Linked DNA regions of Homo sapiens. The protein of the gene in region 2 purifies or fractionates together with the protein of the main gene of each other region. This does not show direct contact. Each region holds a gene or a part of one and is shown on either strand. Other genes may lie near its edges. The genes, in order: ENOSF1 and LTA4H.

Region 1 (4,122 bases), on a different chromosome or scaffold from region 2:
TCCTGGGCTCAAGCGATCCACCTGCCTTGGCCTTCCAAAGTGCTGGGATTATAGGCTTGAACCACCACGCTCAGCCAAACCAGGCTGTCTTAACATTTCACAAATTCAAAGTCAAGTCTAGATTAGGGATTCCTTCTGCTTCAGTTTCCTCAGAGTGAATAGTAATTACAGCCACCCCTCCTTTTTTCTTTAGAAACAGGGTCTCACTGTGTCATCCAGTGCCCAGGCTGGAATGCAGTGGCATGATCATAGCTCATGTAATTGAATTCCTGGGCTCAAGTGATCCCCCTGCCTAGGCCTCCACTTAGGATTAGAGGTGTGAGCCCTCATGCCTGGCCTATAGCCAACTTTACTGACGGCCTTCTCTGAGCCAGGCTCTTTACAGGTATCTCATTTACATGTATAAAGTGAATATTATTATACCCATTTTACAGATGAGAAACCTAGGCTTAGAAAGATTGTGTGACTTAGCCACAGCTGCTAAAGCTTCACAGAGGCAAAGGCAGTTGCATGAGATCGAGTGTTTGGATTCTATAAGCCAGTAAAATTTCCAACATTTATTTTGAGTTCCATAAAGGATTGCCTGCTGGGTGTTTAAGTTATTTACCAACATCATGTAAGAAAGGAAACATGAAGATTTTAAAGAGGATGACAGCCTGGGCCCTGTCTCTACAAAAAATACAGAAAGTAGCTGGGCATCATGGTGCACACCTGTAGTCCCAGCTACTTGGGAGGCTGAGGTGGGAGGATTGGTTGAGTCAGGGAGGTCAAGGCTGCTGTGAGCCATGATAGTACCACTGCACTCCAGCTTGGGCAACAGATAAGAGACCCTGCCTCAAAATAAATAAATAAATAAATTTAAAACATAAAATAGAATAAAATAAAAATTTAAAAATGCAGGATGAACTTAATCTCAAAAAGGACATTGTTTTGCATTTAATAACTTTAACGAGAGATCTATTTTTATAAAACATTTCAGGTACAAAAAGAGTATAGATAATGTAATGGACACCAGCTTGCCATCCACCCAATTTAGGAAGTAAAACATTACAATGGGAATTAGAGACCTCGTGGTCCCCTCCGTGACCCCATTTCCTTCCCTCCCTACTGGTAACCATTTTCCTAACATTGCCGTTCCTCACTTCCCAGCATACTTTCACACATTCACTACATACCCATACAACTCTGCTTTTCTAGCGCGGCCAATCTCATCAGTGGACTACGAGGGGCAGTGAGGACCCAGTGGGGAACAGGCTCCCTGAAAACCCTGCACAGAACCCACTGTATTTGGGAAACACCGCTCTAGACGGGGGCAGGGGAGGGAAGGCCTGACATTCTAACACCCTCAGTAAGCAAAAAAGACCTTCAATATTTAGGTAGGAGTCAGAGTTCCTGCCCTTACTTTATTACATCTCTTAAGACGAACTGACATTTGCATCAGTCCTTTCTAAGCGTGTTTGCGGGTAATTTCACGAGAGCGCCCTCTCATGTGACGCAGTTAGCACGCGCTTGGTTTCTCAACCCGACTGTGACACCTTCATTACACAGACGGGTCCAAGAGACCCAGAGAGGTCTGGAACTTCTCCAAGTCACACAGCAAGTTGTGGAAGCGGGATCACCACTCAAAACTCCCAGCCCCGGGCTTCCCGTTCTCCCTCAGCGCCAACCCCGTCGCGTTCAGGGTACAGAGGAAGCCAGCGAGCGCTGTGCTCTAGGGTTTCCACTGGCGGGAACCCAACAAAATCATTTTGCTGCTATTGCCTATTATGCATTCTACCATTTCCAGCAAAATGTGAGTCGTAAAAGTAAAACCAGGATATTCTAAACTCCAGCAAAGAAAAAACCCAGGAGAGTGGAAAGTTTCTGGATACTTATACAATTGCTCCAAGGCATGAAAAGCGAGTGTCTCCCCCAGGCGCGCCTCCCACTTTACAGAAGCAATGGGTTCGAAGTCGGGAAGCTGCCCGGGGCCCGCAGAGCTGCAGTCGGCGGGGCGGGAGGGACCCGGGCCGCAAGCCGCGCGTACCATGGCGTCCGCGCTTACCATGGCGTCCGCGCTTACCATGGCGTCCGCGCTTACCATGGCGTCCGCGCTTACCATGGCGTCCGCGCTTACCATGGCGTCCGCGCTTACCATGGCGTCCGCGCTTACCATGGCGTCCGCGCTTACCATGGCGTCCGCGCCGTGGCCCCCAAGCGACGTGGGGAAGCGCACGTCCCGGACCGAGAGCCGGGAGATCCTGCCGCGCACCATGGCCCCTGCGCCCCGTGGCCGCGGCCCCCGTGCGGTCAGGACTGGTCGGGATCCCGAGCGCGCGGCGGGAGGGCGGGAGGGCGGGAGCGCGGCAGCGCCGCGAGGCGGGGCACCGTCAGGGCATAGAGGGCGCTCATTGGCCGCGCGGCCGCACCCCGTGAACTTGGCCCCATGGGAGCTGCAGTCCCAGCTCCGGGCTCCCGGGGGCGCACTCCGCCTTCCGCCGTTCCCTTCTCAGCCTAGACGGAGCTGACCCCGAGAGGGTTCGCTCAGGGTCGCCGGGGAACCTGGGCAGGCAGGAGGCCTCGCGCCCGGTCGGCGCCTCCGCGGGACCCTGCTCTGCTCGGATGGAAGACTCGTGAAGGGACCTGCCCGGGAGCCGCGCCCTAGAGGGAGAAGTCGGGTCTGAGCGAGTGCATTCGCTCAGCGGCAGATTCCGGCCAGTGGCTCAGCTCCCAAGCCGAGGCCGCTGGTTGTCGCCAGCGTACCCAGGAGAGCGGTGCCCTAGAAAATGCTAGGTCTCTTTCAGTGCCCACAGCCTCAGTTTGCCACCTGATAAATTAAGAGGCAGGTCATCATTGATTACACCCGTACTGATGCAGATGAGGTCCCCGTACCGTGCCTCAGCCTGTAATCCCAGCACTTCGGGAGGCCGAGGCGGGCGGATCACCTGAGGTCAGGCGTTTGAAATCAGCCTGGCCAATACGGCGAAATCCCGCCTCTACTAAAAACAAAAATTAGCAGGGCGTGGTGGTGCGCGCCCGTAGTCCCGGCTACTCGGGAGGCTGAGGCAGAACTGCCTGAACCCGGGAGGTGGAGCTTGCAGTGAACTGAGATCGCGCCACTGCACTGCAGCCCGGGCGACAGAGCAAGACTCCGACTCAAAAAAAAAAAAAAAAAAAAAAAGATGCTGGGCGGCTCACGCCTGTAATCCCAGCAGTTTGGGAGGCCAAGGCGGGCAGATGGCGAGTCAGGAGATCGAGACCATCCTGGCTAACACGGTGAAACCCCGTCTCTACTAAAAATACAAAAAATTAGCCGGGCGTGGTGGCGGGCGCCTGCAGTCCCAGCTACTCGGGAGGCTGAGGCAGGAGAATCGCTTCAACCCAGGAGGCGGAGGTTGCAGTGAGCCGAGATCGCACCACTGCACTCCAGCCTGGGCGACAGAGTGAGACTGTGTCTCAAAAATAAATAAATAAAAAGAAATAAAAAGAAAATCCAAAGTAAGCAGAAGAGAAGAAATAATAAAAATTAAAGCAGAAACCTGTGAAATTGAAAACAGGAAAGCAACAAAGAAAAATCAATGAAAACAAAAGCTGGTTCTTTGAAAACATTGATAAAATCAATAAGCCTCTAACCAGGCAAGAAAAGAGAACGCAAATAACTAATATCAAAAGTGAAATAAGGAACATTACTACAGATCCGACGGACATTAAAATGATAATAAAGGAATACTATGAATTCTATGTCCACAAATTTGATAACCTGGATGAAATAAACCAATTCCTTGAAAGACACAATCTGCCAAAACTCACACGAGAAGAAATGGACAATCTGAATAGGCCTATATCTATTAAATAACTTGAATAAATAATAGCCTTCCAAAAACAAAAAGCACCAGGTCCATGGTTTCACTGGTGAATTTTACACCAAACATTTAAGGAAGAAATTACAACAATTCTCTATAATCTATTTCAGAAGATAGAAACAGCCACAAACTGACTTTATGGTGAATGATTGATGCTTTCTCCTTAAGATTTGGAACAAGGAAAGGATGTCTGCTTCCACCACTTCTATTCAACATAGTACTGCAGGTTCTAGTTAGGGTAATATAATAAGAAAAGAAATAAAAGGCAGATTGAAAAGGA
Region 2 (3,500 bases):
GTGGTGTAACTTTAGGGGAATCTAAAACTTGGAGACTGGAACACTAGGATATGTTGGCATAAACTTCTGGAAGTCTATTAATAGAATGCTTACTTAAGTAATATTCTCTGTTGTTTCTTGCTCAATAATACAGGCTTTATTCTTATAAAAAGACTAGAAAAATGATTTAATGCCTGGTCAGCAAATTTGGCTTTCAGGAGACAACACTTAAAAATGACATACCAAATAAGATGCAAACATAGTAAACAGCTATATTAATAGCAAAGACCCAGTGAGGTCCCACAGCTCCCTATTTAGACCAGGTCATCAAAACTACCTTACATAGAACAGTGAACAGTGTGGATCAACACAGTGTTATACCAGCATTGACTTCACTTTCCACACTTGTAAAAATGACTTTTTGGTTGCTACACAGTAAAGACGCTTTTATAAAAACTCAGTTTTTAACACCTATACAACTTTGGATGAAGGTTTTTAAAACTTTGACTCCTTTACCGAATTCTGTAGTTCTCCCCATCCTCCCAGAGCATTAAAATGTCTGAACTTTTCACCAAACAATCGTCCGCAAATGTGGCGTTCCAAGTACACAGTATGTCCCTCATTTAACCTGAAAAAAAAATATTTTAATAAAAACACGGACACAGCTGAGAAGAAAAGACATTTCAATCAAGATATTTTCTTTTTGGCTTTTCTACAGAGGAAAGCAGTTGTAAGGCATGACCACTACAGTCTAAGCCGACTCTGGCTCCCAGGCAGTCAATCCAGAGCAATGGGAAGCCCAGCCCAGCAGATGGCAGCAGGGAAAGTTAAGCCCTGCTTCTGCTCTTGCATGTCCCTATGTTAAAAGTGGGAGTATATCAGGAATTAAACTTAACACCTAGACTGAACCTAACACTCCTAACGCTGTAATAAGTGTTACAGAATTTTTAAGAACTATCCTTGTTGGCCGGGCATGGTGGCCCACGCCTGTAATCCTAGCACTTTGGGAGGCCGAGGCGGGAGAATTATCTGAGGTCAGGAGTTCAAGACCAGCCTGGCCAACATGGTGAAACCCCGTCTCTACTAAAAATACAAAAATGAGCTGAGCATGGTGGCGTGCACCTGTAGTCCCAGATACTCGGGAGGCTAAGGCACAAGAATTGCTTGAACTGAGAGGCAGAGAGATCACACTACTGCACACCAGCCTGGGCGACAGAGTGAGACTCCATCTCAAAAAAAAAAAAAAAAAAAAAATCCTTGTTGGCTGGGCGTGGCGGCTTATGCCTATAATCTCAGCACTTTGGGAGGCCGAGGTGGGCGGATCACTTGAGCTCAGGAGTTTGAGACCAGTCTGGGCGACATGGTGAAATCCCATCTCTATAAAAAATACAAAAATTAGCCAGGCATAGTGGCATGCGCCTTTAGTCTCAGCCACTTTGGAGGCTGAGGAGGGAGGATTGCAACCCTGGAGTTGCAGTTAGCAGAGATTGCACCACTGCACTACAGCCTGGGCCACAGAGTGAGACCTTGTCTCCAATTAAAAAAAAAAAATAGCTGGGCATGGTGGCTCACACCTGTAATCCTAGCACTTTGGGAGGCCAAGGTGGGTGGATTGCCTGAGCTCAGGAGTTCGAGACCAGCCTGGGCAACACGGTGAAACCCCATCTCTACTAAAATACAAAAAATTAGCTGGGCGTGGTGGCGCATGCCTGTAATCCCAGCTACTCGGGAGGCTGAGACAGAAGAATCACTTGAACCTGGGAGGCAGAGCTTGCAGTGAGCTAGATCGCACCACTGCACTCTAGCCTGAGTGACAGAGTGAGACTCCATGTCAAAAAAAAAAAAAATCCTTGCCTACCTAAGAGATGATAACAAAGAAAAACAAGAGATACACACAAAACAATTCAGAGTGGTAGGAGGCAGGGAAAAAAAAATCAGCAACATGAACCAATAAAGAAATAATAACAAAAATCTTACCAAAAGTGATCCCAAGTTTTGTTGGTCACTAGATTCCCTGTCCAGCTATGAGATATTTCATGTGCAATGACCTAAAGAAAACAGTGTGATTAATAGTAAGACTGATTATCTTAACCTAAAATAACCCATTCTACTGTAAACACTCCATGTTATTCAATTTTTAAAAAATATTAGCTGAGATATTCAGGGAGTTACTCAGTTCAGCAAAATCTTTAATTTAACCAAAGACATACACACACACACAAATATGGCATAAAGTAATTAGAAAACAAAAATTACTTAGAAAATATTAAATAGATATATCACTGCATTAAAAATATTTCATAAATATATGAAGAGATCAAACCATAAAATTTCCTTAAATCTATTACATCTAATTGTTAATAATGTGAGAAGAGTCCCCAAATTGTCCATTATAACCATATCTTTAACATAAAAATACAAGGGATATTTTAAAATCAGTTGACGTAATACTTCTTGAAGGTAAGGCCATAATGAAAAAGTTTAACTTACATTGGAGAGTGACTTGTCGCCTGCCTACAAAAAAAGAAAATTACCTTAGTATTTTAGTAATCGAATTACAGACTATCTAAAAGACTGCCTACCTAAATACTTAGCATACTGGCACTGGTGATCCACTGTATTTCTACTACAGCACTTCAAAGAAGGTAAAAGAGACCTTAATTGAAAAAACAAAAAAAATACAGAACTAAAAATTAGCATCATTCTTTCTTGCCCTAATTCTAGGGAATTTTTGCAATACAATGAAAGCCAGTCTATTTGTGTCTAACTTCCATGAAACATTTCTTCTACTTCCATTTTTATATCTGCTCTTATTTACCCATCACTTTCTTTCTCTCCTATTACCCAAAATATATTTAATAAAACTTTAGAGTGTCCTATGTGTCCTGTGCTGTATTTTATTTATTTTATTGCTAATCCATCACTCATTTTGGTTCTAAGAAGAATTTAAAGTAGCTCACAGGCATATTAAACATAGCAGCGTTCTATGGCCCTAATCCTTTCCTGTACATGGTGTACTGATTTTTTTTTTAATTGTACCTACACACCAAGTGTAATTGGTATAGTCTGATTGTCTGGATACATAATTTATCAATGAATTGTTGTTACACAGCACCCCCATGCCCAACTCCCCAAATACCGTGAACATAATATTCTCCTTCTCCAAATGGCCTGATTATTTTCCTTTCAAAAACAAGATGGAGGCCTGGTGGGGTGGTTCATGCCTGTAATCCCAGCACTTTGGGAGGCCAAGGCAGGTGGATCACGAGGTCAGAGGATCGAGACTACCCTGGCCAATATAGTGAAACCCCATCTCTACTAAAATTACAAAAATTAGCTGGGCATGGTGGTGTGCACCTATAGTCCCAGCTACTCAAGAGGCTGAGGCAGGAGAATCGCTTGAACCCGGGGGCAGAGGTTGCAGTGAGCTGAGATTGTGCCACTGCACTCCAACCTGGGCAACAGAGCAAGCCTGTGTCTCAAAAAACAACAAAAAAAAAATGAGATTGTGATAACCACAA

What was found.
Region 1: the proteins of LTA4H (region 2) and ENOSF1 fractionate together in Homo sapiens (co-fractionation; one large-scale study listed by BioGRID). This does not show direct contact.

The regions. Positions count from the first base shown.
Region 1 is NC_000018.10:710,334-714,455, forward strand, and holds the start of ENOSF1 (mitochondrial enolase superfamily member 1), read right to left. Parts: upstream 2,298-4,122; 5' UTR 2,255-2,297; coding exon 2,171-2,254; coding exon of another isoform or gene 2,027-2,170; intron 1-2,026. UniProt on the Homo sapiens protein: Plays a role in the catabolism of L-fucose, a sugar that is part of the carbohydrates that are attached to cellular glycoproteins.
Region 2 is NC_000012.12:96,015,088-96,018,587, forward strand, and holds part of LTA4H (leukotriene A-4 hydrolase), read right to left. Parts: intron 2,494-3,500; coding exon 2,470-2,493; intron 2,028-2,469; coding exon 1,957-2,027; intron 608-1,956; coding exon 496-607; intron 1-495. UniProt on the Homo sapiens protein: Bifunctional zinc metalloenzyme that comprises both epoxide hydrolase (EH) and aminopeptidase activities. Acts as an epoxide hydrolase to catalyze the conversion of LTA4 to the pro-inflammatory mediator leukotriene B4 (LTB4).